Linked DNA regions of Homo sapiens: region 1 is linked to region 2. The links come from fine-mapping of genetic effects on gene expression. A gene starts in region 2. The other region holds a variant in brackets. All regions are shown on one strand. Distances are from middle to middle.

Region 1 (2,911 bases), 110 kb before region 2:
TGCAATGATAAGGAAATGGGGAGTAAAAGAGTAGTTACGGGAGTTGTTCACAAATAGAAACGTGAACAATATCTTGGGTGCAATAAATACCAATTGCTTAATCACTCTGTGGGGTGAAACATTTTGCAATGGATATGAGTTATCATTGTTCCATCTATGCAGTTACAGAATAGCAATTCCCTCATCACTAATGAGAACTCTGGGTGAGTTTCCAGAAGACTTGATACATTTCCTGGTCTTTGATGACCTTGTAACACCAGATGTTCTTTTAACTCCAGGTATTCCCTTCAGAAAGTAAATTCCTTTCAAATTCCTTTCCACCAATGACAAACCATATATACAACAGTGCTCCTCGTAAGATTATACCACCATATTTTTACCATACCTTTTCTGTTTAGGTATGTTTACATGCAAAAATGCCATTGTGTTACAATTGCCTACAGTATTCAGTTCAGTAACATGCTGTACAGGTTTGTAGCCAAGAAGCAATAGGCTATACCATCTAGGTTTGTGTAAGTACATTCTATGATGTTCACACAATGACAAAATTGCCTAGTGATGCATTTCTCAGAATGTATCCCTCTCATTAAGCTACTCATGACTGTATGTGTGAAAGAATAAAATGACGCCACCTTTTCGTGAATCTGGTATGGTATGCTGCAATTTTCAAAAATTAAACGGCCCAACCACGCCTCCATGCACTATCTCTATAAAAGATTGTTGTAAGTGAACATCACTTCCTAACTACCAGTAACCAAATATTATACAGAACATAGAGTGGAATTGCAAAGACTGATAAAGTCAATACTTAATAAACATACGATCAGCTCCACACAATAAAAGCAAAAACTAAGAGAAAGGCAGCCAGGGAGTAGTTAGGAATACAGGTTCGGAAGTCAGAGAGCCTGGGTTTGATCTCAGTTCCGGTGCTTAGCAACCTAGTTCAGCAACTTGGATCATTATTTGACCTCACTAAACCCCAGTTTATCTATAAAACGGGATAATAGTAGTGCCTGCCCCATAAGGGCATTGTGTGCCTAGTAAATAAAATAAGGCATTCCAAGCCCAGCACAGCACCCGGTTCATAAATATTAGCTATTATTATTCAGAGGATTTTTTTTTTTGTTATGTCTCTGAAATCCTAACCTGTAATTCCAATCTGCTTACTTCCTTCCATCTAACTCCACAGGCTACAGCAATATCCAACAGCCCCCATATATTACTGAAATGGGAAGGCATCTTATAAATTGTAAATCCAGCCAAGGTTGTACAACCAAGGATGTATCAGACCCTCTGGGCACCCGTGGTGTTGAAAAAGTGTACCTAGTTAAGAACCACTGCCTTGCTCTGAATGTCTCACTTTACAGAGGAGCAAGCTGAGGAGGCCCAGTAGCATGAAGAATCTTCTGGGGTCACAAGACCATTTTCAGAATCTCCTCTTGACAGACCTGGCTCAGACCTCAAACTGGGAGCCAAGTGTCTTGACTCTGATTGCACAATTTTGGCACTCCCCCGGGTCGTCTTATGAAATTCAACGAGCATTTCCTGAGAAACCACAGTAGGGGTCAGGAAGGA[A/G]AACAAGATGGAAACCCCGCCAAGAATGGCATCGCGATCTCATCAGGGAAACAGGCATTGGCGGCGTTAAGAATTCTAAAAGAAGTGCCAACAAAGTGCTAAGAAGTCTGAAGTGTTGCCGCTAACTCACAAAACTTTCATGAAAGAGGTGGAATTTCTACTGGACTTAGAAGGCTAGGGATTGAAAGGAGCCATTCTGGGTAAAGTAAATCATTCAAGCAAAGGCCCCGAGGTTTCAAGAGAGAAAGCTCATGAGAGATCTTACAATCTTCTTGAACAGACAAGGAGATAAACCACAGAGCTGAAACATCTGGGTTCAGAAAAAGCCAATAGTCTGAAGTATCTTTTAGAGCTGCAAAGTGATAAAATTCTTCCACTGTCTCTTCCCAAATTATCCACAGAGCATCTGCTTTCTGCCTGCCTCTGGTTCTGAAAGACTGAATGCCAGAGAGAGGAGTTGCTAGAACAGTTCATGTGTGGGATCCCACTCTGAAGACATTAAGAATGGAGAGGCTCAATTCTCATTCCTTGTAGAAGTAGAAGCCAACAGGAATACAGCCAGCCCCTCTACTCAAAATCTAAGGAGATGATGTGGGAATGAAAATGACAATTCCCTTCATGATATTTGATCCTACATGAAAAAAGTATAAATTTCCAATAATTCTTAGTCTATTTTGCTCTGAAGTTTCAGTAAACAAATAACTACAGCTTGCCATCATGATTTAAAGCTATTGAAACAATAGAAATAATACTATTCAAATTTTCTTTACAACCTTACTAAAATGTTAAAAACAGGTTTGGTGTAGATAAATCCTCCCAACTTGTTCTGGTTAGCTATTGCTGTGTAACAAACCACTCCCAAACTTGATGGCATGAAACAATTATTTTATTATTCTCGTGGATTCTGGTTTTATCAGTAGAGGGTCTTTACAGCAAGTTGTCCAGGTTCTTAGCGTTCGGAACAAAGAATTGGACAAAACACAGCAAAGCAAGGAAGAATGAAGCAACCAAAGCAGAGATAGAAAAGTGAAAGAAATAGAAAGTGAAAGTGTGGGAGCAGGCCCCAGCAGCAGCTCAAGGGCCCCTGATACAGAATCTTCTCAGGGCCAAATACCTCCTAGAGGTTTCCCATTGGCCACTAGGCGTTCACCTCATGTAAATGAGGTGGTGGCCCACAATCAGTCTGATTGGTTGCGGAAAGCAACCAATCAGGGGCTGAAGTGAAGTTATAAAGGTCACACTCCCATGCAAACGTCTGATTGGTTGTGGGAAGCAACCAGTCAGAGGCTAAAGTGAAGTTACAAAGTGACACTCCTATGCAAATGTCTGATTGGTT
Region 2 (2,911 bases):
ATACATTTTCCTGGATTTAGACAGTTTCCTCCTCCATTTGCCTTTATTTCCTTGCATTCTCTTTTCATCGGCTCCATTTTTGCTGAGTATTCCTTTGCTTTATTCCCAACGAAAATCGAAAAGACTTGATGTTCTGAGAAATTCTGAGACTGGCAGTTTTGATTTTTCTTAAAAGGATAAAAATTGCATCAGTCAACACCTCCCTCCACACTCCCCCCACACACATCCTCATCTTCCTGGAAGATGATACAGTATCCTAGAGCGTTGTGGAGAGGATGGAGAGGTCAAGGAAGCCCTGGCTTTGCAGAGGCACCTGTCAAGTTCGGGTTAACAGCTGCCGCCTGTGTCTGCCCTCTGCAGTCCAGGGAAATAGTACCCACACGGTGAGACTCCACCGATCCGGAACTGGAGAGGGTGGGGGGTTCTAAGGTTTAGTGTGACACAAATGTCAGGGCAGAACTTTCAAACAGGCTGAGCCCCAGTTCAACGTGGGTGAGTGCGCCTGAGAGCCCAGCTCTGGGAATTGAGCAGACTGAAAATGTGGAGAGTAGTTTGGCCAGTGAAAAATTGTCACCGTGTTCGGATCAATGCTTTGAACCCGCTTTTAAGTGCGCCACGTTCACTTGGGTCAGGCTCTGGACATTGCGGTGGGCTGAGGTTTTCGCGGGCACGATCCCCCACACTGAGTTTTCATGGAGACGACCAGGGCCGTCGAGGCGGGGAAGGGAACGGACTAGAGGCTGAACTTTGGCTTCTTGCTCTGAAAGATCACTCCTCCGGTTCCGGGGCAGAGACTCAGACCAGCCTGTGGGATTACACGAGACAGGATCGAGTCCAAACGGGTCCCCAGCTCGGCAAGGCGCGCCGGAAGGAATCTAAGTGTTTAATTAACTGCCCCCTTCACACACCCCCCGAAGGAGAAGGAACTCAAATAGGCACCCCTACCCAAATCGTTTGATCAGAGGAAATTGGGTTTGTCTCTCCCCCACCCCCCACCCCGTCCCTTCACTCTTCCTGTGTTTCAGTCCATCGGGATTGTTGGTTAAAAAAAAAAAAAAAAAAAGGCTTATAATCGGGGGCGGGGCAGAGGCTCCGAGCGAGCCGCACTTGCGACTCTGGACCGCGGTTGGTGAACTTTTTTCTCCCTGCGCATAATCCGCCTGCTGCTCTGCCCCACTGGCTGCGCGTGGAGCCGGTCCCAGGCCTGCTCGCAGCCCTGCCCCCGGGCGCGGCCCGAGCCGGGCCCGACCTCGCTTTCAGGGCCGAGCCGGGGTACGCGTGGGCGCGCGCCCAGCGGCCTCGATCCCGCGGCGGCGTCCGCGCTCCGCGTTTTCGCTCGCGCCGGGCCCCGCGGCCGAGGGCGGGGTGCGCGGCGGCGCCGCAGCGCGCGGCTCCGGAGCCCGAGCGCACTCCGCCTGCAGCCCAGCTGCCAGCGCCGTCTCCCGCGGCCGCCGCCGCCCGACAGCGCGCCCGGAACATGCCAGCCTCGCGCAGCCTGCGCTGACTTCCCCGAGACGCGCCGCGGTCGGCACGGAGACTTTCTGGGCTCTGGATGGTTCGTGCGCTGCTCACCCTCGCCCACCCCTGACGCCGCGGACCGCAGCTCCTCAGCCCCGCAGCCCCGCAGCCCAGCAGCCCCGCAGCGGCGCCGAGGACAGTGCAGCCGAGTTGCGTCTCCCTCGCGCGAGGTGAGTGGCAGCCTGGATCCCGGCGGATTCCGCAGAGGGGGCTGCGGCGCGGTGGTGGGGGGCGAGCGCCGCAGGGGTAGGGCCGGGCACCTTCGCTGGCACCGCCGGAGTCTGTGACACCCAGACTGGGTCGGTGTCGCAGAAGATCAGGGAGAAGGTCATAATCGGTTTGTTGGGCTGTGTAGACAGGGAAAGCAGATATTGGCTGCAGCATCGCCAGGGCTCCGCAGAGGCTCTCCGCATGGCTCCTGTTTGCTGCATCACAACCAACTCTTCCCTTGGTTTTCTCCGGCGTGGAAACAGGTTCTGTAGCCCGAGGGTCGAGGCGATGCGGGGCGCCGGGAGGCGAGGGTGCGTTGGCGTGTTCCCGCCGCTTAGGATCGCCTGTCACCTACTGGCGTCCGGAGGGAGGGTACCGATTCTCTCCTCTAGCGCTGGGGAAAGGGGCTGGTGGCTTTTTGGCAGAGGCGAATCAACTCCCACCACTCTCCCCAACCCCCTGCCCCGCGATGGTGTTTGCTGAATGTAGCACAGATATAGGGAAAAAATGGGAGCGTCTTCCTCTCTTGAGGTAGAAAAAGTTGAAGAAACTAGGCATGTTAATAGTTATTAGGAGCGGGACTCAGGATGCAGCAGAAAGCTGTTAAATTTTCATTACCCTCTAAGAAAAACAAACGGCATCGCCAGTGACTATTGGCAGTGCTGTGTTATTCTTGGGACTTTGGGAAAATTGTTCACAGATTGTCTTCAGGAGGCTGAAGAACGAGGTTGGGGGTTGGGAGAGAGGGAGGACGGCTGCATCACGCTTAGTTCCAGCTTGCCTAAGGAGGGTTCAGGATCACAAGCCGAACGCGTTTGGTTGCTGATTTTTAAAAGGGTATCAGCGGCAGAACTGAGACCATGAACAAGGCAAACACACCACGGGAACCAGCCTAAAGGAAAAAAAAAAAGCACCAACAACTACAACCAAAAAAACATGTAAAAATCTGCCTCTCCTGCAGAGTTAACATGCATTTGTGCTATCAAATGGATGCATGTATATGTGTCTTTTAGGATAAGTTTTATGAATGACAAATCACTGAAATGGTATCTTGTATCTGTTCATGCATACAGTGTTGTCTACTGCCTCGTCTTAATCAGTACTTTGGAAGGCTGTGCCTGCAGTTGATGTTATATAATTGATGTGGTTCACCATCAGACATTTTTTAATGTACTTTAGGAGT

What was found.
Region 1: its variant is fine-mapped to the expression of PRICKLE1 in whole blood (TOPMed, PIP above 0.99). The same link has a PIP of 0.9 or more in blood mononuclear cells and monocytes.

The regions. Positions count from the first base shown.
Region 1 is chr12:42,695,564-42,698,474 of GRCh38, reverse strand. The region is part of intron 2 of LINC02450 (long intergenic non-protein coding RNA 2450); the gene reads right to left. Among named protein-coding and RNA genes, the nearest start is that of LINC02450, 4.8 kb to the right of the region's middle. RefSeq lists a silencer at 2,688-2,767. The variant A/G (reference allele first, on the strand shown) is at 1,576.
Region 2 is chr12:42,588,242-42,591,152 of GRCh38, reverse strand. It overlaps PRICKLE1 (prickle planar cell polarity protein 1), which reads left to right and starts at 1,407. Exons shown (of 8, transcript NM_153026.3): 1 at 1,407-1,688. RefSeq lists an enhancer at 127-684 and a silencer at 1,154-1,403.